Linked DNA regions of Homo sapiens. The protein of the gene in region 1 purifies or fractionates together with the protein of each later gene. This does not show direct contact. Each region holds a gene or a part of one and is shown in the gene's direction. Other genes may lie near its edges.

The links.
Region 2: the proteins of PPP4R3A (region 1) and COBLL1 purify together in Homo sapiens (affinity purification with mass spectrometry; one large-scale study listed by BioGRID and IntAct). This does not show direct contact.
Region 3: the proteins of PPP4R3A (region 1) and NUCKS1 fractionate together in Homo sapiens (co-fractionation; one large-scale study listed by BioGRID). This does not show direct contact.
Region 4: the proteins of PPP4R3A (region 1) and HNRNPR fractionate together in Homo sapiens (co-fractionation; one large-scale study listed by BioGRID). This does not show direct contact.
Region 5: the proteins of PPP4R3A (region 1) and GRK6 purify together in Homo sapiens (affinity purification with mass spectrometry; one large-scale study listed by BioGRID and IntAct). This does not show direct contact.
Region 6: the proteins of PPP4R3A (region 1) and CAST fractionate together in Homo sapiens (co-fractionation; one large-scale study listed by BioGRID). This does not show direct contact.
Region 7: the proteins of PPP4R3A (region 1) and EHMT1 fractionate together in Homo sapiens (co-fractionation; one large-scale study listed by BioGRID). This does not show direct contact.

What each region holds. Positions count from the first base shown.
Region 1 is NC_000014.9:91,458,311-91,461,810, reverse strand, and holds part of PPP4R3A (serine/threonine-protein phosphatase 4 regulatory subunit 3A), read left to right. Parts: intron 1-203; coding exon 204-430; intron 431-2,941; coding exon 2,942-3,052; 3' UTR 3,053-3,500. UniProt on the Homo sapiens protein: Regulatory subunit of serine/threonine-protein phosphatase 4. May regulate the activity of PPP4C at centrosomal microtubule organizing centers.
Region 2 is NC_000002.12:164,695,324-164,698,823, reverse strand, and holds part of COBLL1 (cordon-bleu protein-like 1), read left to right. Parts: intron 1-2,987; coding exon 2,988-3,500.
Region 3 is NC_000001.11:205,726,183-205,729,682, reverse strand, and holds part of NUCKS1 (nuclear ubiquitous casein and cyclin-dependent kinase substrate 1), read left to right. Parts: intron 1-61; coding exon 62-111; intron 112-1,877; coding exon 1,878-1,983; intron 1,984-3,500.
Region 4 is NC_000001.11:23,337,785-23,341,284, reverse strand, and holds part of HNRNPR (heterogeneous nuclear ribonucleoprotein R), read left to right. Parts: intron 1-264; coding exon of another isoform or gene 265-276; coding exon 277-433; intron 434-2,676; coding exon 2,677-2,795; intron 2,796-3,423; coding exon 3,424-3,500. UniProt on the Homo sapiens protein: Component of ribonucleosomes, which are complexes of at least 20 other different heterogeneous nuclear ribonucleoproteins (hnRNP). hnRNP play an important role in processing of precursor mRNA in the nucleus.
Region 5 is NC_000005.10:177,440,034-177,443,391, forward strand, and holds the end of GRK6 (G protein-coupled receptor kinase 6), read left to right. Parts: intron 1-666; coding exon 667-804; intron 805-885; coding exon 886-1,020; intron 1,021-1,211; coding exon of another isoform or gene 1,212-1,217; exon of another isoform or gene 1,218-1,320; intron 1,321-1,701; coding exon of another isoform or gene 1,702-1,703; coding exon 1,704-1,757; coding exon of another isoform or gene 1,758-1,794; 3' UTR 1,795-2,858; downstream 2,859-3,358.
Region 6 is NC_000005.10:96,661,061-96,665,175, forward strand, and holds the start of CAST (calpastatin), read left to right. Parts: upstream 1-1,315; 5' UTR 1,316-1,362; coding exon 1,363-1,437; intron 1,438-1,964; exon of another isoform or gene 1,965-2,076; coding exon of another isoform or gene 2,077-2,106; intron 2,107-4,115.
Region 7 is NC_000009.12:137,832,005-137,834,315, forward strand, and holds part of EHMT1 (histone-lysine N-methyltransferase EHMT1), read left to right. Parts: intron 1-2,311. UniProt on the Homo sapiens protein: Histone methyltransferase that specifically mono- and dimethylates 'Lys-9' of histone H3 (H3K9me1 and H3K9me2, respectively) in euchromatin.

The sequences.
Region 1 (3,500 bases):
TCTGAAGGTTTCAATTCTTCTCTGGGGTAAGATCCAATGAATGGAATTGTGGTTAGTATTTTGGTAAGCTTCTTTTATAAATTGAACTTCAATGTTTCTACCCAGCGTAGTAAGCTAGTTAAATGTGTTTTAGTGTTACCTCATTTGGGGAAATTTAAAAAAGAAGTATGGGGGACGACTATTGACAGTATTCTCATTTTTAGTAAAAGAAAGTGAGGAAAAGGAAGTGCTTCTGAAAACAAACCTTTCTGGACGGCAGAGCCCAAGTTTCAAGCTTTCCCTGTCCAGTGGAACGAAGACTAACCTCACCAGCCAGTCATCTACAACAAATCTGCCTGGTTCTCCGGGATCACCTGGATCCCCAGGATCTCCAGGCTCTCCTGGATCCGTACCTAAAAATACATCTCAGACGGCAGCTATTACTACAAAGGTACATTCTTGACTCCCATTTTGCCCCCTTTTTTCCCAATTGAAGCTTTCTCAACAATAATTTTGACTAAGATTCCCTTTGGTTACTGCCACCTAGAACTGATTTAACATCCCTGAACTAGAGGATGAGTCCCCCCCACCGCTTGAACTTATATAAAGGTTGAGAAATTTCTGAAAGTTTTTTTTATGACCAATGCAAGTCTGCATATAGTGTGAATTCTCACTTGGGTATTTTGGATTTTAGAACTGAAACTTCAAATTTGTATGTCAAAACATTTACAGAAATGTTCAAGGTTTTCAGTTATTCTTGAATAAATGTTCCTAACTAATACCCAGATAAAGCCTTTGTGGGGAAATGATAATCTAAATATCTGGGTACTTCTAACTTTACTTTGCCAGTTAAGGTTTGTTAAGAAAATTAAACATCTACTATCACTAACATTTCATATAAGAAATGAACAAGGGCTGGGCACGGTGGCTCACGCCTGTAATCCCAGCACTTTGGGAGGCTGAGGCGGGCAGGACACGAGGTCAGGAGATCGAGACCGTCCTGGCTAACGTGGTGAAACCCCGTTTCTACTAAAAATACAAAAATTAGCCAGGCGTGGTGGCGGGCGCCTGTAGTCCCAGCTACTCTGGAGGCTGAGGCAGGAGAATGGCATGAACCTGGGAGGCGGAGCTTGCAGTGAGCTGAGATCGCTACTGCAACAGCGAGACTCCATCTCAAAAAAAAAAAAAAAAAAAGGAACAAAATCTTAAGAAAAAATGTAGAAAACATGCAATCTCAGAATAAAACCAGTTTTGGGGGCTCCTTATGCCAACCACCCTTTTCTTTTGAGACATAATATATTGATTATTGGGCTAGCAGACTAGCAGTTAAAAGACTGGCATTTGGGAATCACTGATCTAAATCAGACACGTAATGCCCATTCAGTCTTTTTTTTTTCTGGCGTGAGCTGGAGACTCCTGACGGCTAAGAAGTGAATCTGAGACACGCTGAAATGAAGAGGCAGGCTTGAGAGCAGAGCAGTGTGAATTTTTCCCTTAGCATCGAAATAAAGCAAGCAGCAGCCAGGCGCGGTGGCTTACGCCCGTAATCCCAGTGCTTTGGGAGGTCCAGGGGGGTGGGTCACGAGGTCAGGAGATCCGAGACCATCCTGGCTAATACGGTGAAACCCCGTCTCTACTAAAAATACAAAAACATTAGCCGCGTGTGGTGGCGGGCGCCTGTAGTCTCAACTACTCAGGAGGCTGAGGCAGGCGAATGGTGTGATCCCGGGAGGTGGAGCTTGCAGGGAGCTGAGATGGCGCCACTGCACTCCAGCCTGGGCGACAGAGTGAGACTCCATCTCAAAAAATAAATAAAGCAAGCGGCAGTGGTTTCTGGTGAAGGAGCAGGGCTAAAAGGAAACCCAGATGAAATGATGAGGAAGAGTCAGGGTAGAACTGCTTTCCTAACCTCTAATAAATAGAAAAAGCCTGTCTACCCTCATTTCTGGTGGTCTCTTTATCTGCTGCAGTTTTCATTTTGGTACTTTTTTTTTTTTTTGACAGAGTCTCAGTCTGTCACCCAGGCTGGAGTGCAGTGGCGTGATCTTAGCTCACTGCAATCTCCACCTTCCAGATTAAAGCGATTCTTGTGCCTCAGCCTCCCAAGTAGCTGGGATTACAGATGTGCACCACCACACCTGGCTAATTTTTGTAATTTTATTAGAGACAGGGTTTCACTATGTTAATTAACAGGCCAGGCTGGTCTCAAACTCCTGTCCTCATGTGATCCCTCCGCCTCAGCCTCCCAAAGTGCTGGAATTACAGGCACAGGCCACCATGCTCAGCCTCATTTTTATACTATTTTAGACTTTATGTTTAAAAAAATTTTAAGATGCTATTAAGTCTTGAAACAAACATTTTTCATTCATTTTCTAACTCCTGGGTAATTTGCTAGGATTATAAACTACTTAAATTTTTTTGCTTTAGTTTGGGTGCAGTGGCTCATGCCTGTAATCCCAGCACTTTGGGAGTCCAAGGTAGGTGGATCGCCTGAGGTCAGGAGTTCAAGACCAGGCTGGCCAACATGACAAAACCCTGTCTCTAGTAAAAATACAAAAATTACCCAGGCGTGGTGGCGGGCGCCTGTAATCACAGCTACTCGGCAGGCTGAGGCAGGGAGAATTGCTTGAACCTGGGAGGTGGAGGTTGCAGTGAGCCGAGATCGCACCACTGCACTCCAGCCTGGGTGACATAGCGAGACTCCGACTTGGAAAAAAAAAATTTTTGCTTTAATTCTAATTAACTCAAAGTTTTCCCTTATTGTAAAAAAGTATGCATGTTTATTACAGGAAATTTAGAAAATATGTAAACATAATGAATTGAAGTTTAACACAGTCCCACCACCCAGAAATAACCACCGTTACTATGTTGGTAGGATCTATTTTCTTTCTCCAGCCAGAAAACACCAGTGTTTTTATATGTTTTATTTTCTGTTCTTTAAATAATCCTTATTTCTTAACAGGGAGGCCTCGTGGGTCTGGTAGATTATCCTGATGATGATGAAGATGATGATGAGGATGAAGATAAGGAAGATACGTTACCATTGTCAAAGAAAGCAAAATTTGATTCATAATAATGGCAACGGCCTAGGATCAGTACCTGTTGAAAAAAACTGGTTCTCCACCCCTCCCCCATACAAAATCCACAACAAAGCGCAGTGGTCTCTTGTGAATGACTGACACAGATCAGCCTCTTACACTTGACTTCTGCTCATCAAGTGCCAATTCAATGGAGCAGGAGGAGGGGATATCATATATTTAGGGGAAAGACTTAAGCCTTTGAGCTCTCCAGCTTGGACCACACATTGCCCTTTTCTCAGGGAAGGAAATGGAAACAAAAAGCCAACAGGGCAGGGGTTTTGTAAGTGGAACTCTGGATTGACTGGTCAGTTGCTACAATCAGAATATGCTTTCTTGGACCATGTTTGAGACTCAGAAGAATGGGCCTTTCTGCCATAATTCTTCACTAGTCAAGAATGCCAGCAGTTTCTTTGTATAAAGAGACCTGCCTTTAAAATCATA
Region 2 (3,500 bases), on another chromosome or scaffold:
AATTTTTCATCTATTTTACCCATTCAATTTTTATCCAAATCATATCATTTCATGTTTTTACTTGATTATTAGAAGCTTTGCGGTTCTATATTTATGATTCCTCAACTGAATTAGGCAGTCTTGGATCAGATAAATTACATGTGATACTTTGCACTACTCATGGCACCTAACAGAATCCTGAGATACTCATAAAATATGTACTTAGTATTGAATTTCAGAAAAACAATCCTATGCAAATAGAAAATTCAAAAAATACTCAATGGTGTTTTAAGGGGTTAAGAAGGAAGTGGCTTATGAATTCTCATAGTCCAATCTATTATGTTAATCTAGAAAACTAGGTTAAGATATTTAGAAAACTTAGGATGTAGTATTCATATTTGAATAAGACATAGATAATCGCAATGTCATACTTATATATATAATTATATATATATATAATTGTATGTGTGTGGTATGTGTTCATTAACTTGATTATGTGTGCTACTGATTCATTTTCTCCCACATTCAATACCATTGTGAGATATCATACTGAGAAGGTCTAAAAGCAAATAATTTTTTCATTCTTTTCCACTTGAGTCAGTTTTTCACAGCATGTACTGTGATGGCAATAGCATTCCTATTGAGAAATTATGATTTAAAAGCTGCTTCTTTCTCTTTAAAACAATAGTCAAGTTGTATCATTTTTGTTAAGACTTTTGTTGTCAAGTTAGTGCCAGAGTCACAAGTACATTTACGTAGTACTTTGATTTGCATATGGTTTGTTTTGCTACGACTTTTGTCAACTCTAGTTGTTTTTTAAAGTAAATAATGTCTATTATTCTTAAAGTAGTTTTATTCTGTTTTCCTTTTTACCTACCCTTATCTAAATCACCTTCTTGTAAGTTTGTCAATGTCAGTGTCACTTTTGAGTAGAGGGTCACTATAGTATAAAAGATACCTTCTCCCTCTACTGGCCATTCTTGGAAAATGATCTAGCCATTTATAAACACTTGGTTAACATCATTGTCAGTTGTATATGAGGATGGATTCTGGGTTTCCAGGACTGCCAATCACTGGAAATGATCATGAAATGTTGAGAAGAAATTCAGAGTTAGACAATGGTAAAGTAGGTGTAACCTACCAAAAATATGAAAAAGAGAGACTTATAATTCTAAAACCAATAAATTAGGGTTTTTAAACGGGGATTCAATTTAAAATATATGTTTACATTGACTTTCTTTCTTTTGGAAAATATTTCTGGGAAATACATATACTCAGTGGAAAATTAGAAATAAGAAAGAAAGAAGGAAATACATTTAGACTCATTTCCTGCTGCCAGAGATTGTTTCTTAAATTCTTTCATGCTTATAACTGTTCAAAATAGTGTTTTTCATATGAACATTGAAAAATACTTATGAACCAAGTAAATTGAGAGCAGAGGCAGAAATGTGCCTCTTCTATGGTTCCTAAGAACATGGGTCTTTAATTTTGTAAATCAAAATAGTTAATAATAATTGGTCATTGAGAAAAGAATTCACCTAAGTAGATGGTACGTATTCTGATACTCAGTTGCATTTTATCTGGGAAGAATAAAAATGAGTTCCATTTTAAAATTACATGTTTAATATAGGAATCTTGCAACACAATATAGAATATTAACTGCCACAACCAAATAACTGTGCAATCAGGCAGAGTTTAAAAATGTGAAGATATGTTTTTAAATTGTATACAAATTTACCTAACATGATATTTTTCTGCATGCATATCTTTTTTCTTTTTCTTTTTTTAAGAGAGAAACTATATAATATAGCTTATTACATTTTAGGCAGTGTACTTCATCTCATTCTTATAGGTAATAGTGGGTAATGATAAAACTATAGAGAAATAACTTGACATAATTTCACAGTTTGACCCCCAAGGCTCACATTTAACTTGTGCTGTGCAAACTATTGCCATATGTGAAAAGGCCACTAGGGTTTTGAAGATAAGCACAGTGATGGTGCAGGAAGCATGATTCTTCAGGGCATTTGAATAGAGGAGCAGAGGAATGACTTAATTCGGTACTGGGCACATGGTGCAGACTCCAAACCCTGTTTCCTTCCACATGCCTCCTGCCAGTGCTTTGCCATCATGTTGTTGACTGGAAGCTGTTGCTCTGTTAACCTAGACACTGGCAAATGAGTTTTGTTTTCAGGAGGTCTGAATTAGAATCAAGAGGAAAAGTAGTGCAAGGGAGAGGAAGGTTATTTTCTCTACTTTGATTTTGACTCTGACTGTAGAATAAGGATGCCTATTTCCAACAGAGAAAAATCAAAACCATTATGACTGATTTCATGTCATTGAAATCACCCATGTTATAACTAAAAATAAAGTCCTCTAACAGCCTTCAGCAAAGATACCTAGTTAACAAGACAATCAACTGAGATTCTGTTTTTACTATAAATCTTAATGTTTTCTGTTAAGGCCTTCATTAAAACTGCATTTGCTGGGATTCTTTTCCTTTTAATGTTAGGTATGAAAATATAAATATGCTAGGGGCTATAGAAAAGACAGTCAAAATAGAGGAAAAATACAGTTTTTGAATTTGTCAATTTCTATTTTTTGTCATGAACAATGACTGAATGACATCTTCTAAGAAGTAAAAACTTTATTTACCTTCTATGGAGTGTTTATTCTGGTCAATATACTAATGAGCATGCTATCTAAATGATACACATATAATATAAATATTTTCACCTTTTTATGTCTGAGCAAACTGAGGCTCAAAGGGGTTAATTAACATGTTGTGGCCACACTAGTTAAGCCAGGGATTCCAAACTTCAGTCTGTATGAATCCAAAGCACGTACTGTTTTCTCTGTATGCTACTACCTACCTTTATATAGTCAGTGAGTTGAAAATTATCTGTAGAATTCAAACCAAACTATTTCAGGTTGGAGAAAGTAGGCATTAAAAACTTGAGGTTTTCTACTTCTTTCATATATTTAACTTGATGATTTTTTTCTCTCAGTAGTTCAAAATGAAATAATTGTCTATCCAGAGAACACAGAAGACAATATGAAAAATGGAGTGAAGAAAACAGAAATCAATGTAGAAGGTGTTGCCAAAAATAACAACATTGATATGGAAGTTGAGAGACCATCAAACTCTGAGGCACATGAAACTGATACTGCTATAAGTTACAAGGAAAACCATCTAGCAGCTTCATCAGTACCAGATCAAAAACTGAATCAACCCAGTGCAGAAAAGACAAAAGATGCAGCAATTCAGACAACCCCTTCTTGTAACAGTTTTGATGGGAAACACCAAGATCATAATTTATCTGACTCCAAAGTTGAAGAATGTGTGCAAACTTCAAATAACAACATATCAACTCAACACTCATGCTTAAGTTCACAAGATTCTGTAAATACCTCAAGGGAATTCAGGAGTCAAGGCACCCTAATTATACATTCAGAAGATCCGCTTACCGTAAAAGATCCAATTTGTGCACATGGTAATGATGATCTTTTGCCTCCTGTAG
Region 3 (3,500 bases), on another chromosome or scaffold:
CTGATGTCTTAGAAAAATCCTACAGTTTTATGATTTTAATTAGAGTCTCTTCTTTCTACAGAAATAGGAAGGTTGTTGATTACTCACAGTTTCAGGAATCTGATGATGCAGGTAAGTTTTGTGGTTTCAACAAATTTTAAGTTGGACTGACCAGTGGAGGTTACCAGCTTATATAGTTTTATTATGCTTTTGGAATAAGTTTTACTTTTTTATTTTTAGATCATTTACCAAAACCATGTCATGATCTGTGTCAACCAAAGCAAAAGTTGAACTTACATGGATTTTAACTTTTCCTTGGTAAATCATTGATAATAAACATTAAAAAGCTTTTTTCTTACCTGGTTTTGGAGTCCAAAGTTTAAATGTCCAGTAATTCTGATACAGTGTTCATTGCTTAAAATATCTCCTGCTGTCAGCCAGTCGCCATGGCTCATGCCTGTAATCCCAGCACTTTGGGAGGCCAAGGTGGGCGGACCACTTGAGGTCAAGAGTTCCAGACCATCCTGGCCAACATGGTGAAACCCCATCTCTGCTAAAAATACAAAAATTAGCCGGGAGTGTTGGCATGCACCTGTAATCCCAGCTACTCTGGAGGCTGAGGCAAGAGAATCGCTTGAACTCGGGAGGCGGAGGTTGCAGTGAGCCGAGATGGCGCCACTGCACTCCAGCCTGGGCAACAGAAAGAGACCCTGTCTCAAAAAAAAAAATCCACTACAGCCAGGCGCAGTGGCTCACGCCTATGAATCCCAGCACTTTGCAGGGGAAAAAAAATCTCCTGCTGTTACTACAATAAAACTTGTGCCTTGTATTATGTTTTTACATAATAAAGCAACTAAGATGAGAGTCTGTTTTGTGAAACAACTTATATTTATGAACTAATTCATCAAGGAATGAGTGTTGTATAGCTAAGTCTTAGCCATAAGAGGTTTTTTCAGAGTTGTCTCCTTAATCTCATTACTTTCCAGGTATGTTTACTATTCTTTTTTCTTTCTTTTTATTCTAACTTTTCTTTATAAAGATAATATGTGCCCTTTGGGAAGACTTAGAAAATACTGAAAGATATGAAGAAGAGAAAAAAAATAATATGTAGCACTAATATTTATTAAATGCTTGCTACATGTCAGGAATTGTTTCAAATGTTTGTATTTAATATTTACTTAGAATAATCTGTTAATGTGTGATATACTATTATTATTTCTATTTTGAGTATCTTGTTAATAAAAGGTATTTGAAAAATTCCTATCAATGGTTATATAATATCCCATAATGGAATTTATAATGTTTCTGACCACTTAATAATTGCTGACGCTCCAGACTACTTCCAGCATCTCGCCATCGTGTGTGTGTGTGTGTGCATGTGTGTGTGTGCAAATGGTGCAGTAAACAGTTTTGGAAATAATTTCCTTTTAAGGTAGAGTCATTTTCCTTAGTTTTATAGGGCTTTTGAAATTGGAGATATTTTCTTCAAGTGCAAGATTATGTTGTATTTAATGCTTTAGTTTAAAAGTAATTTGCTTAGTAATAGTAATTGTGTTTACTTCCTAAAATGTTTGTAATATAACCATATTACAATAATTTTCAAATAAGTGTGAAGATGTTGAAATCAAAAGGGGAGGGTATAAAATGATGAGAGAGGTTTAGCTATAGAAAGATGAAATATATATCATAAGGACTAGAGGGTAATATGCAAAAACGAAGTGAAGGTGATAGGACTGCGTTGGGAAATAATTTAGTTTTTTAAAGATGAAAGAAACTATTTGGGAAATCCTGCTCCTCTCACCATTTAAACAGCATGAGAGATAATTATGTCAGTAAATATAGTGGTGATTTTAACATGTAAAAATCATAGTTAATTAAGTTTGAAAAACACTGTTTAGATGAAGATTATGGAAGAGATTCGGGCCCTCCCACTAAGAAAATTCGATCATCTCCCCGAGAAGCTAAAAATAAGAGGCGATCTGGAAAGAATTCACAGGAAGATAGGTAAGAGGCATTGTTTTTCTGTTCCTGCTTACACTGTTACCACTCTGAGATGAGAGCAGTCTCTGATCTCTAAATTGTTGGAATCTCATATACTTTTGAAAAGTACTTACTGTCCACTTAATATTTTGCATATTTCATATTATCTCAGGCTGTGCTCGAGTATACAATTTGTTATCTAAGGTTAATACTGACACTTTCATTGTAGTGATAACAAAAAATAAGTGATATATCTCATTCAGTCACAAATCACTGGCACAATTAATTACAACTAAAGCTTGTAGAATCTTAAGTTGTATAGCCTGCTGCCTTTTGCTGTCTCATAATCAATTCTCCTTTGTTTAAATAATTTAACCATTTTGGAGAGTTTCTTTTCCCTTAGTTTTACAAATGAGTTGTGATTTTAACTATAATTTTGCCTCATAAGACCAGGATATTAGGAGTACATGGTGGCTCATGCTTGTAATCCCAGGACTTTGGGAGGCCTAGGTAGGAGGATCGCTTGAGCCCGGGAGTTTGAGACCAGCCTGGGCAATATAAGGAGACCACATCTCTACATAAAAATTTAAAAATTGGCCGGGAATGGTGGCACTTGCCTGTAGTCCCAGCTACTCAGGAGTCCGAGGCAGGAGGATCCTTTGAGCCCAGGAGTTCAAGGCTGCAGTGAGCTATGATTGCACCACTGCACTCCAGCCTAGGTGACAGAGCCAGGACTGTCTTGGGAAAAAAAAACAACAACAAGACGAGGATATTGTAATTTCTGCCTTGTTAGTAAAGTTATACACACTCTCACACTTGATGTAACATGAACTTGTTACACTTGGTGTAACAAGACCTTCTTGGTGATAATGGTGATTATAGTGATGGTGATGGCTACTGTTTATTATGTGACAATCTCTATTATGTGTTTTACGTACACTATCATTTAATTCTTACATCATCTCTATTTGGGTAAATATTAACTTCTTAGAGGGGTTCTGTGATTTAACCAAAGTTATCCAGCAAATGGACAAACAGGTTATGAAACCATGTCTGTTGGACTCCAAAGTACATTGTTTAACCATTGGAGCTCTATACCACTTCCAAATAATACTATTACAAATGAGCAGTTCAAATAAATGAAATATTTCTCACTGCTTCTTCTAAGAATCTTGGAGCACCAAAATCATTATTAAATTCATGTATTTACCTAGTAGTTTTATTTATGTTGACAACCTCTAATACTTTTTTTGCTGGAGCATTTCAGAAGTGTGCTTTTAAGGAAAAATAATACAGAATTATACTGTTGGGAAACAAGTCTTCTAGAGCTTCTTGGTATATGTCTAACATAGTTGTTGTTGTTTGTTTTTAATAGAGATGGGCTCTCGCCATGTTGCCCAGGCTAGTTTCAAACTCCTGGGCTCAAGCGATCCTCCCATCTCAGCGTCCCAAAGTGCAGGGATTACAGTGTGAGCCACCATGCCTGGCCTAAAACAGTTTTTTGTTTGTTTGTTTGTTTGTTTTTTGAGGCAGTCTCACTC
Region 4 (3,500 bases), on another chromosome or scaffold:
ATTCTACCTTCAGTAAATTAAAGCCTTTATCTTACCCGGTGTACATGAAGTTCCTTAAAGATCTAATGCTTCCATGTACATTTTCTATGGTTTTACAGGATTATTATTGCCAATTTAGGTCAGATACATCACAGGAGGAATAAATTATTATTTTGATAGAGGTTATTAGCAGCATGTATACAAATTAGTTTAGATAAATCATGCATTGTCCTACAAACTAGTTATTTCTGGCTTAATGTAATATAGCTCCTGAATTTTTTCCAGCAGCATAATAAAATGGCTAATCAGGTGAATGGTAATGCGGTACAGTTAAAAGAAGAGGAAGAACCAATGGATACTTCCAGTGTAACTCACACAGAACACTACAAGACACTGATAGAGGCAGGCCTCCCACAGAAGGTGGCAGAAAGACTTGATGAAATATTTCAGACAGGTATAATATGCATTTCTTGTTTCTGACTGGTTATGAAAGTGAGGGCAAACCACTTTGAATTTTATAGTTTTTTAAGGTTAAATAATACTTATTGTTTCTGATCTGTAGAGCTGAATGTTTGTTACTTTCCCTTCATTGAAGGCATATTGGGTTTGACTTTGATACTCTTATTTCATTATTTTGAAGCCTTCTTAGTGTTGAATATGCAGTCTTAGTTGTTTCAGAACAGCACATCGATTTGTCTTAGATTTACCACCCATAAAAATGTATGTTTCTGCATACCAAATTTTACATTTTTTTCTTAATCAAAATCAGTCATCATTTTGCTTTTGCTTTTCTACTTTTACCTTCTTAAAGTGATTGTTAAATCAGCTTAGGTCTGATTAGGTGGCATAACAAGAGGATAGCTGTATCGTCTGAAACCATAATAAATGTCAGACTCCTTGAGAGTTTGTGGCTTGTCTAGTTTCTAATAGAAATCCACATCTCTCCGTAATTTGGAAGTGTTTGGTTGTAACAGCTGCTTCTTTTTTTTTTTTTTAATCCAGAAGTGCCATGGTTAAGTGCTTAAGCAAATTTGAACATCTTAATATAGTTGGTTGTAAGTGGTTTGAAGTTTTAAAGAGGGAGAGAAATATTTACCCTTAGGGAGCGTTGTTCATAAATGAATGTGTCCTCCTCCTTTGGGGACATAGATGGAAACTTTCTTCCTCTGTGTTGTGTGTGCCTATTCAGATTCTGAGAGAGAATTGAATTGTCTCACTCACAAATGTGTCTTAAGTACAGTAGTAGCAAATAGCTGTTTTTTTTTTTTTGTCCTTAAAAAATTTTTAAATCTGGGAAGCTTAGCATAATTTTAGACATTAAAATGACTTATAAAAATGACTCCTGGGTCATGGTCGCATTTGAAAATCAGTCCTCAGGAACTTTCTGTGACATTCTGCCATAGAGAATTGGCAGTGATCTGCTTAGAGATGCTCTCTTGTAGAGTGTTTTGTTATTGATAAGAGGCTGATGGTTTGGGCGTAGACTTGGTTTGACAAAATGGATTGATGGGTGTCCTGAGTTGTGGCTTCGGGTGGTGGTATGGAATATTCAAGTGAGGCAGCTCCAGTTATTTACACATGCTCATTTCGAGCTTTTGAAACAAATCATGGCAACTTTTTTAAAAAGTAACTTTGGAAGTGGCATTACATTTATTTAAAATTTACTATATGGAATAAAGTTCTTTTTAGCTTTATCAAAATGGAGTCACTTTTCATGTTCATATGAACTTGGGGGTTTTAATCTACGAAATACTTGCATTTTACGTTGGATCAATTCTGAAATATATTCCATATGTAAATATGACACAAACTTAACAGACTTAAGAAATTATATTTTAAACTTAGTAGATGTTCTGTGTGCAGTTGAATATACTTACATATATGAAATGCAGTGTATATATTTTCTGTCAAGTTTACTTGTAAGACCATAAAGTCTTTATTGCCATTTGAAAATGATTGTCGTTCTTGACAGTCAATGTGAATGCCACAGCATCTTTTAAATCTCAGCTTGTCACTTCAGAAGAACAAAGAATGCCTTAAAGTATGACTTTCAGAATTGATTAATCAAGCTGCACTTGCATTTGTAGAAGTTTAAAATTATGCCTTTCCACATTCTGACTGCAGCAAAGTGGATGCTCAGATAAACAAATGCATTTCAGTTTATCTTTGGTGTTCAGGAGGGAAAGCCTTTTGACACTTTTTGGAGAGTGGAAAGAATTACTTAGTAAAATTTGTTTTCAGATTTTCCTCCACCTCTTAGGTGGTTAGCATCAACTGTAACCGTCTGTAATTTGAAGGTTTATCCTTGGAAAACGCAATGTATTCTTATCACTCTAATATAAACCAAAATTTGTTGTATTAATGCATAATCTGTAATACAGTATGTACATCAGATTTAACTTTCAAGACTTATACCTTTGGGGGAGTGGGAAATGGATGTTAGGATTTGGCGGGGGAGGTTTGTGGATATGGAGATTGAAATTCATGTTTTTGGTTGTTGACATTTTATCTTTATTTTCATATTTGTCCTGGACCTTTCTATGTAGTATTTGGATAGCTGCGTATATGCATATAGTTAAATGAAAATACAGTTTGTTAGTGATCATATTGAATGTAACAATTCTTGATTAAACGTCAGTAGAGCTTAGATTACCCCTTTTGTTGCAATAACGTTACCCCTTTCAATTTAATTTTTAGGATTGGTAGCTTATGTCGATCTTGATGAAAGAGCAATTGATGCTCTCAGGGAATTTAATGAAGAAGGAGCTCTGTCTGTACTACAGCAGTTCAAGGAAAGTGACTTATCACATGTTCAGGTAAGGTCGTTACTCAGAAATGTCTTTGAACAATTAGTAATCTGAAATTATTTTACTATTACTTTTTTTCCTATGGAGAAGTGGTATTTTTTGTTTGTGACTACCTCTTCTTTTAAAAAATTAGTTTAAAGGAAAAAAACTGCTTGTGGCAGAGTTTCAGAAGCCCAAGTATAAAGCAAAAGTTTTCTCCCACCCCCTTGTGCAGTAAGTTATTTTAAAAACTTAAAATTAAAGCCAAGTTTTGATGGTTGTTACTATAGGTTTTTACATGTTACTCAGCTTTTTAACATTTGGGGGTTATTTGATCCTGTTTTATTATCTTGGAGGAAAATGTAGGTGGGAGGAATAGTTTCCGACATCTGGCAAAGACAGTCTAGATACAGTCACATATCAACAAGTGGAAGACTGTGTTTTCCCAGGGTAGAAGGTAAGCTCCCTGAGGTCTATACTGCCTTACTGCTGTCTGCTCCAATCTCTGGCACATAGTAACCACTCGGCAAATACTTGTTGAATGAATCAGTAAATCTTTTGTTAAAATCCTGGTTTTCTGAAATTTAAATTTAATTATGTATCTGACCCTTCAGATATTTTTGGTGATTCTTTTTATTGAATTACTTGTCTGTTCTAGAACAAAAGTGCATTTTTATGTGGAGTTATGAAGACCTACAGGCAGAGAGAGAAACAGGGGAGCAAGGTGCAAGAGTC
Region 5 (3,358 bases), on another chromosome or scaffold:
AGGAGTAGAATTACTAGGTCATATGGTAATGATGTTTAAGCTTTTGGGGAACTGCCAGACTGTTTTCCAAAGCAGCTGTACCATTTTACATGACAATGATTTTAATTGACATCTTAATTGAAGGATTTAGAAAACAATGTTAAGATAAAAAAAGAAGGTGGCCGCCTGGAGCTGAGGTGGGCTCCCAGTGTGGGTCTGGGGAGGTGGAGCAGTGGGAGACCGTGCCAGTCCTCTGATTGGCTGGGAGAGAAGACGGCAAGTCCCAGGTCATCGCAGGGCGGGGAGCCAGGGAGTCACCAGCTCCAGGCTCTGCGTGGTGGTGCCCAGCGGAGGGGCCGGCTGAGATTCAGCCTGTACTCCCCGCCCCAACTGCATACCCAGGAAGCTGTGGGCAGGCGAAGGAGGTGCCTGGCATTGGCCTTTACACAGCCTCACAGTCATTGAGCAGTGAGGAATAACGTACGCAGTTCACAGAGGGGAAAACCAGGCTTCGGAGAGAAGGGCCTGCCCCACTTAGGAAGTGCGTGGGGCACCTGGTTTCTCCAAATCAGAGAGCTGCTGGTGTCAGGCAGCACTAGGCCAAGACCCGAGGCAGAATCAGGGCTGAGCTGCCTTCGCGTGTGCGTGTGTGTGTTTCCTATCTGACCGTTGCCTCTGTCCCACCAGCCCCAGGCCATTTACTGCAAGGATGTTCTGGACATTGAACAGTTCTCTACGGTCAAGGGCGTGGAGCTGGAGCCTACCGACCAGGACTTCTACCAGAAGTTTGCCACAGGCAGTGTGCCCATCCCCTGGCAGAACGAGGTGGGGGCCTGCCCTGCTGGTGGGGTGGGCTCCAGGAGGCTGCCCTGGGGACAGCTGTCACAGCCGCCTGCTCCTCAGCAGATGGTGGAGACCGAGTGCTTCCAAGAGCTGAATGTCTTTGGGCTGGATGGCTCAGTTCCCCCAGACCTGGACTGGAAGGGCCAGCCACCTGCACCTCCTAAAAAGGGACTGCTGCAGAGACTCTTCAGTCGCCAAGTAAGCCCCAGCAGCGGCCTACCTGGGCCCCTAACCTGGCTCCAGGGGACGGTGGGTGGGAGGCAGAGCCGGTGCCCGCATGCGCTGGGAGTGGGCGTCCTCCAGTCCTGTTGTGGTGCCCAGGGTCTCTGGCCTCATTCCCGCCTGTCCCCCACCCCTGGCTGGGCTCATGGCCTCTTTTCTCTTTCCAGAGGTGAGCAGTGTGGGCTCCCCGTGGGTTGGCCTTGCTGCCTGGCCTCGGGGAGCCACGGGCAGCCCTTCCATGGCAAAGGCAAGATGTGGGAGAAAGAAGTCTGGTGCCCGCCCCACTCCCCCTGCCCACTGCTTTGATCCCCTGCACCCTGGCCCCTTCGAGCTGCCAGCTTTGCTTCGCTTGTCTCCCCGTGCCCTGTCTCTGCCAGCCCCAGGGGAGAGGGCTGGGCAGAGGCCTTGCCCTGGCAGACCGTGGGATCTACCCAGCCCCCTTACTTCAGTCTGTTGCCGGCAGCCTCTGCAATGACGCCCACCCACGTGTGGCCTGAGCTGCTGCTCCAGGCTCCTTGTGGAGAGGCCCCTCCCCAGAGTGCACCCCTCAGGCAGCTCCTGGCCTGCCCTGGCAGGGTCGGCCCCATGTGACGTCCCTCGTGGTTAATGGCACCTGCTCTGCCTCTCTCCCTCCCTCCGTGTCTTCCCCGTCCCTCCAGGATTGCTGTGGAAACTGCAGCGACAGCGAGGAAGAGCTCCCCACCCGCCTCTAGCCCCCAGCCCGAGGCCCCCACCAGCAGTTGGCGGTAGCAGCTACTCCGAGCGCCGTTTACAGTTTTGCACAGTGATCTTCCCCATTGTCCACTCAAGTCGTGGCCTGGGGAACACAGACGGAGCTGTCCCCAGTGTCCTCCGTCCCTCAGCCCCTGGCCTGGCTGAGTTTGGCAGGGCCTGGGCCATCCCTGGGACAAAGGTGCGTCCCTTCAGCTCTTCTCCGTGGAGCTCGGGGCTTTCTGTATTTATGTATTTGTACGAATGTATATAGCGACCAGAGCATTCTTAATTCCCGCCGCAGACCTGGCGCCCCCGCCTTGGCTCCTGGGGGCAGCCAGCCCTGGCTGGGAGAGCGGGAGCTGGCAGAGGAGCCACTGCCAAACTCAAGGCTCCTCTGGCCCAGCTTGGATGGCTGAGGGTGGTCACACCCCTGAGCCTTCAGCACTGTGCTGGCCACCCCGGCCTCTGAGTAAGACTCGTGCCTCCCCCTGCTGCCCTGGGCTCAGGCTGCTACCCTCTGGGGCCCAAAGCTGTCCCTTCTCAGTGCTTGTCAGCGCTGGGTCTGGGGCCTCTGTATGCCCTAGGCCTGTGCCAAAGTGGCCAGAGATTGGGCTGCCTGTGATACCCATCAGCCCACTGCCCCGGCCGGCCCAGATAGGTCTGCCTCTGCCTTCCAGCTCCCACAGCCTGGTCCCTGATACTGGGCTCTGTCCTGCAGACACCTCTTTCAGAAACGCCCAAGCCCAGCCCCTAGGAGGGGGTGGGGCATCCCTGGTCAACCCTCAAACATTCCGGACTCCCCTCATAACAATAGACACATGTGCCCAGCAATAATCCGCCCCTTCCTGTGTGCGCCTGTGGGGTGCGTGCGCGCGCGTGTGTACCTGTGTGGGTGAAGGGGATAGGGCGAGGCTGTGCCTGTGCCCCAGGTCCCAGCCCTGGCCCTTCCCAGACTGTGATGGCCATCCTGGTCCCAGTGTTAGGGTAGCATGGGATTACAGGGCCCTGTTTTTTCCATATTTAAAGCCAATTTTTATTACTCGTTTTGTCCAACGTAAGCTGCCACATGTCTCTGTGTGAATAGTCCGAGCACAAACCTGGCTAGCCGCCCCTGCCTGCCTCTTTCTTGCTTCCGGTGCTCCAGGGGTCTTCCTGCTCCCCTGGCCCAGCTGGAAGCGGGAAGGGATTGGAGGTGGGCCTGGAGGGAAGCAGGGTGTGCCCTTCCGAGGCCCAGGAGCCCCCAGGGCTGACTCTGAACTAGCCTCTCCAGACAGCCAGGCTTTGGTAGCCTTTGGGCTCACCCAGTGGGTTTCCCAACTTCCTAAATGGGATGGGGCCTAAGGAAAGAAGCCTTGGGTACCCACTGGGATGTGGGTCTGTTTCTGACTGCTGGTAAGGCGGGCCCCGTTGGTGTCCTCCCCTCCAAGGCTAAGGTGGCCTGGCTGCCTAAATGTGGACGTAAGAGTAGGGTGGGAGCTGTGTAAGGAATGTCTGCCCCAGGCCTGCGTTACCTGGACGCCAGCCATGTACGGGCCCCGGGCTGAGGCACGTGCATCATATCCACCCCTCTGTTTTGCCCTTGACACATTATGGGCAAAGA
Region 6 (4,115 bases), on another chromosome or scaffold:
AAAGGAAACCAGAATTCTGTTCTGCCAGGCTCCATATAGCATGACAAATCTCTCCTTAAAATCTGCCTTCTGGCCGGCTGTAGTGGCTCACGCCTGTAATCCTAGCACTTTGGGAGGCAGCACTGGGCAGATCACTTGAGGTCAGGTGTTGTTCGAGACCAGTCTGACCAACGTGGTGAAACCCCGTCTCTACCATTAAAAAAAAAAAAAAAAAAAAAAAGCTGGGTGTGACAACGCGCCTGTAGTCCCAAGTACTTAGGAGACTGAGGCAGGAGAATCGCTTGAACCTGGGAGGCGGAGATTGCAGCGAGCAGAGATCGCGCCACTGCACTCCAGACAGAGCGAAACTGCCTCTCCAGAAAAAAAAAAAAAAAAAAAAAAAAGGCTCTGCCTTCTCTCTCTTCAACTGTCTAAACCCCAACGCTGCAGAAAGCGGTGACCCCAAGTCCCAGAATGATGATGCTACTGCAGGGTAACAAACAGGTTTTCTGTCAGGCCTGATTGTGAACCAGCAGCAACTGCAGGCTGACAGTTTCTCACATAAGCACGTAGGGCTTGTTAAATTTCACTTCCAGCCCCAAACCAGGAAGCGCTGTTTAAGATGAGCCCAAGAAGAAAGCAATCTAGCTTCAGAAACAAAACTCGCCAGACTCTAGAAAGACTATAAGGGTTTAAATTTGGGACTGTTCTCCGTTTTGCATTGGAACCTATGTTCTCCTCCCCATAAAAGTTTATTAAAATTCGAAACTGCCAAAAAACAAAGTAAAATCATATAAAACATACACAGGCGCGTGCACGCACGCACACACACACAGACCAATTTGTTTTTGTGATCCGCTTCCTTATCTAGACTGTCCAGGCTTGGGCCAGATTTGAGTTGGTAAACTCTCGCAGCTAAAGCGGAGCAGAATGTAGAAAGAGTATCTACTTCTCCGGATTGTTGGGAGGAGGGTCGAAGCGTAGACTGGCCACGCCCGGGTCCCGCTCTCTCGTTGCACAACTGCAAGCTAGATCTGGGCATCGAAGGAGGAACGCTGCAACCTCCAACCCCTTCTTTCTGACCAACCGGGACCAGAGCAGTGCTGGGGCCGGGGCGGGTCACCGGGTGAGGACCGGGGCGGAGGGTGTTAAGTTACAGGGCAGGAGCCCGGGTCCCTCCGCGGGCAGGAAGGGGAGGGCCCATCGGGGCTAGGGGAACCCCGGCGCAGACCTGGGGTGGGGTCGGAAAAGCTGTTTCATCGCCCGCTCCCGGGCCCTCCGCTCCCTCCCTCCCTCCCTCTCTCCCTGGCAGGACTCCCCGCCAGGCCTCCCCGCCACTCTCCGCGGCGCATTCCGGGAGGCAGCGGCCGCAGCGGCCTCGCCATGTCCCAGCCCGGCCAGAAGCCCGCCGCCTCCCCGCGGCCCCGGCGAGCAGCCGCCGCCCGCCGCACCCATGAGGTGAGTGGCGCTCCTGTCGGCGTCGCGGGGCTGGGCGATGGGGTACCGGGTCCCGGAGCTGTGGCCGCCCTCCCTGGGCGTTGCCAGGCTGGCGGGTCTGCAGTCCCCGGCGCCCCCGCGGGGCAGGGAGAGGGCTAGGGGCTTGGCCGCTGCCAGGCAGGTGGCTGCAGGTGGCTTCGGTTCCCCGGCCGGGTCCAGTGCGCTGGGCGTGGCGTTGGCCGGGTAGAGTGGAGGGGGGGACGCGTCAAGAAAAGTTGGCTGGTAAGACGTGGGTGAATGAGGATGAGGATGAACGGGGAATGAGGTTCACTCAGGACCCCCGAGTGAGTGGGGTGGTTTCACTGGACAGCGGGATGTAGTCTTCCGCGCTAAGGCCGGGCCGCAGGGCGTGGCTGCCTGGAGACGCAGAGCCTCTTCCCTAACCAGCCTCGAGCCAAATTGGGCGGGCGAGGAGGGGCGGGGCCTGCGCCGGGCCCCACCCCCAGGGTTCTGCCCACCTGGCAGCCGCCTTGGGATGTGCGGAGCTCAGTGCCAGCCCGGTCCCGGCCAAGCGGAGTGTGAGCCCGGCGCCTCCAACGCAACACCCCGCGCCCTCGCCGGCTCCCCCGCCGTGCGGATCGGAGCCAGCCGGTTGTTGCCATGGCATTCGCCAGCTGGTGGTACAAGACGGTAAATAGGAGCGGTTGTGCCTGGGCAGGACCCGGAAGGGAGTGTGTTGGAAGGGAGTGTGTTTGCTTTGCCCTTCTGGGCGTGCGGATGAAGCGTTGTCCGGGGTTTGGCGGGGAAGGGGTGCGGACCGGGTGCGACCTCCTCGCAGACCTTCAGGTTAGGCTCGGGGAGAGGCAGGGGACTCACCCTCTTGTGGTATGTATGAGCGCGCCCGAGCGTGCGCGGCGCATGCACCTCTCTCGCCCCGATGTCAAGCACTATGCTCTGCTGGCGCTCACAAGTGGGATGGAACTGGAATTGTTGCTGGAGGAATTCTGTCTAGGAGGTGGATTCCTGAATGCACTAGGACGCAGCTCGCAAGAGCTTTGATCTAGAGTTCTTTTTTAACCCCTAAGTAAAGTTCAAAACTTTTAGAGGGCGATTGTTGGACGTACATTCGCCGACGCAAAGGAGAGGCAGCTGCAATGTGAGGCAAGGAGAAAATCCCAAACATCAAGGGGCAGAAGCAACTGAGATCTGAGACCAAGACCCTTGGAGAGAGCGGTGGAGGGGTGGAGGAAAGAAAGCGAGAAAGTGAGAGAGGGAGGGAGAGAGAGACAGCGCGCACAAAAGCGAGCTTCTCTGCACTTTATTACTTTGGATGAGGGACAAGAACATTCCATTTGTTTGGTGCATTGAATGTTTGTCCTGCCAATTAGGTGTAATATCCAGTCAAGCTGGCACTTCTAGTGTTTTGGAACCAGGAAGCATGATTTAACATTAGATTGCTTTCCAAAAAAAAAAAAAAAAATCACACACAGGAGTTTTGTTGACAGTGAGAGCCAAAATGTTTATGTCTCATTGATTTATGGTGAGAATTAAAAAATTAGGTATGTCTTTTTCTCTCTTGGCATGTGGTATTGGAAAAAGCAAAGATGTTGGAATCAGACATTCTTTGGAGCTAGCTACCCTGTATAAGAATCAAGAAAGAAACTGTTACTTATCAGACAATGGACATTTATTGATCATCTATTATGTGCCAGGCAGAATTATATCCCACAAGTAGTGTTTTTTTTTAGATTATTTTTTATTCTCCGTTTCTATATAAATAGTATATATGTATAGTGTGTATGTGTGTATATTTACAGTGTGTGTGCATATATATATTTACACATATATGTAAATATATGTGTGTGCATATATATGTAAATATATGTGTGTGTGCATATATATGTGTGTGCATATATATGTGTAAATATATATATATATGCACACACACACACACATACAATATACTGTACAGGGTCTCTCTCACTATGTTGCCCAGGCTAGTCTAAAACTCCTGGTCTCAAGCAATCCTCCCACCTCAGCCTCCCAAAATGTTGGATTACAGGCATGAGCCACTGCACTGGGCCTACAGGTGCTTTTTAAAGCCTCCATGTACACTGTGGAGAACAAAGAGTTTTTCTCAAATGGAAATAAGTCAACCTTTTCAACCTGTTTTCACATGTGTAAAATAGAAATTATATGCACTACATAAGTATTGGTGAGGACTAATTAGATTTAAAAGTCAAAATGTCATACACATATACTTTTAAGAATTTGGAATTCCAATTTCCCTTGAGATACTTCTTCATGAATGTTTTCCAGTACATTTCCTGGGCTTTTACATGTAGCATTTGATTGATGTGGTAAGAACAAACCACATCAATTTGCTTTGAGTCATTATTGGCCTAAGGTTCTTATCAAAATGTACCATGTACCTTATCTGCAAATATGGATAGCAGTAGTTCAGAGTTGACATCAAAATTCTCCTTCCAGACTCATGATTCTCTCAAGGAAACTCTGCTGGGTTACTTGGATGAAAGTAGTTTGAATCTATGCTTTTAACCCTGTTTTGTTTAGTCACAGTCTGATGTTTTTGCTAAAACCTCTCTTAGAATCCCATTTTGGTACTACCATGAAAACTTTTTGCTAGTAGGAACTTCCTAGAACCAGCTACATGCCTGTGATCAAGCTTTAGCTTTGCC
Region 7 (2,311 bases), on another chromosome or scaffold:
CTCCTACGTGGCCGCTGCACTTCGCCCCAGTCCTAGGATTGGCTGGGCTCCCTCCACAGGCTCCGCCTCCTACGTGGCCGCTGCACTTCGCCCCAGTCCTAGGATTGGCTGGGCTCCCTCCGCAGAACCCCCCAACCCCACGTGGCCCCTGTGCCTTCCCTCCAGTCCTAGGATTGGCCAGGCTCCCTCCACAGGCCCCACCTCCTACATGGCCTGTGTGCCTTCATTCCAGTCCTAGGATTGGCTGGGCTCCCTCCTCAGGCCCCGCTTCCCACGTGGCCTCTGCACCTCGCTCCCGTCCTAGAATTGGCTGGGCTCCCTCCACAGGCCCCGCCTTCCACGTGGCCTCTGCACCTCGCTCCCGTCCTAGAATTGGCTGGGCTCCCTCCACAGGCCCCGCCTCCCACGTGGCCACTGCACTTTGCTCCCATCCTAGGATTGGCTGGTCTCCCTCAGGCCCCGCCTCCCACGCGGCCTCTGCACCTCGCTCCAGTCCTAGGATTGGCTGGGCTCCCTCCGCAGGCCCTCCCCCCACCCACCCATGTGGCCCCTGTGCCTTCTCTCCAGTCCTAGGATTGGCTGGGCTCTCTCCGCAGGCCCCGCCTCCCACGTTGCCTATCTGCCTTACTCCAGCCGTCCTTCTCTGGACTGTTGTCTTTATCTGGTTCTGGTCGGGCAGAGATTTGTGTCACAGACTTTGACACCCCACCCATCTTAGAAGCTCGGAGCAGCGCTGTGTGCTCTGCCAGACGAGCTGCCCCTGGTGAAAGCTGGGCCTGGCCCCTCCAGTCGGAAGCCCCTCACTCTCCATTTTGCTGCTTATCAAGACCTTCGTGTGTGCGCCGTTGCTAGTTCCGGAATTGCATTCTGCACGAGGAGGGGTCGCCTATAGATTCTTAGTCCATCAGACCCCGAAGCAGAGGCCAAAGTCCACGCCAGGTGAGCCACTCTGAACTCTGTTTCTTTGGGGTAAACCAGGAGGCAGCTTCCCGCGCCTTTGGCTTTGGGGGCTGTGGCTGGTCCTGTCCTGCGGCCGTGCTCGCCTGGTTTACTGTCTTGTCACTGCCCGCGCCGTGAAGGTTGACGGAGAGCTGCTCTCGTCCACGCCTTTACCCGCTTGTTGGTTTGGGTTTTAACCTCTTGACCTCTGAGCGTCCCTGGCTCTCTGGTTAATGTTCATGCTGGGGCAGGTTGTGGACCAGGTGTCTCTGCCGGCAGGCCCCGCCCTCTCGGAACTCGGTCCTGGAAAGCCCCAGGTGCCTCCTTCCCCGTCTGCCTGGCTGTCGTCTGTGGTGTTGCCTCTTCCCGTCGCTGGGTAACAAACCACGCCACCCACCCGCAGCTCGCCATGGCGGCCACCCACTCGGCCCAGTGTGCGCAGCAGGGGTTGGGCGTGCCGGGCCTCGGGCTGCACAGGCAGGGTGCTGCTGAGCCCAGGTCCCTGTGGTTGCGTGGGCAGCGTCTAGGTTCCTTGCTAGCTGCCGGCCGGGACCACCTACCTTACTCCCACGCAGCTCCTCCATCCAGGCCCCAGCAGCTCCAAGCCCTGGGTCTCCAGAGAGAATTGCTTTTAAAGGGGTTGCGTGGTTAGGTCAGGCCCACCCACCTCGTCCCCCTCTCTATGGTCAATTCAGAATCCATCATCACAGGCCAGTGCCAGGGGCCAGGGCCCAGGGCCATGTGGCCACCCGGAATCCTGGGCTCCTCTCCAAGGCACCAGGGTGAGGAGGACGCCTCAGTCTCTTCGGCCTCGTGTTCCACAGTCACATCAGCACCCGGAAGGGCTGCAGCAGAAGTCGTTTTCTGTGGGCAGCCTCCGCCTGACGGTCCTCCCTGGTGCCATTCGCCACTGAGTCTTCCCAGACCCTCTGGGGACTGCTCCGCCTCCTCGTCACCAAGACAGTGTGTCCCGGATGCCAGCTCCATCCCTCCCGACCCCCTCAGCCCCTGCCACTGCCTCACGGGGCTCTTGCAGCCCCGGCCTCCTTTCTCCTATTGGTGCCAGACAGCCCCATGGGTCCTCGGGTGGGATGGCGCTGTCCACATTCCACCGCGCTGGAAGCCCCATGGGGACGCCGTCAAGGGAACGGCCCGCACCACCCCCACCCCACCACAGACGGAGGCCCAGCGAGGACGGCAGGGTGCGGGGTGGGTGGCCACACAGCGAGGAGAAGGCTGGCGGAGGCTCCGCACCGCCGCCACAGGTCACTGGAGAAGGCCCCTCCTGCATGGCGGGCCTGCGCCCAACTGCAGGCTCCGGGACTGCCATGCATGGCCGTACCCGGCGAGGCCGGCGTGTCGGGGCCTTGCT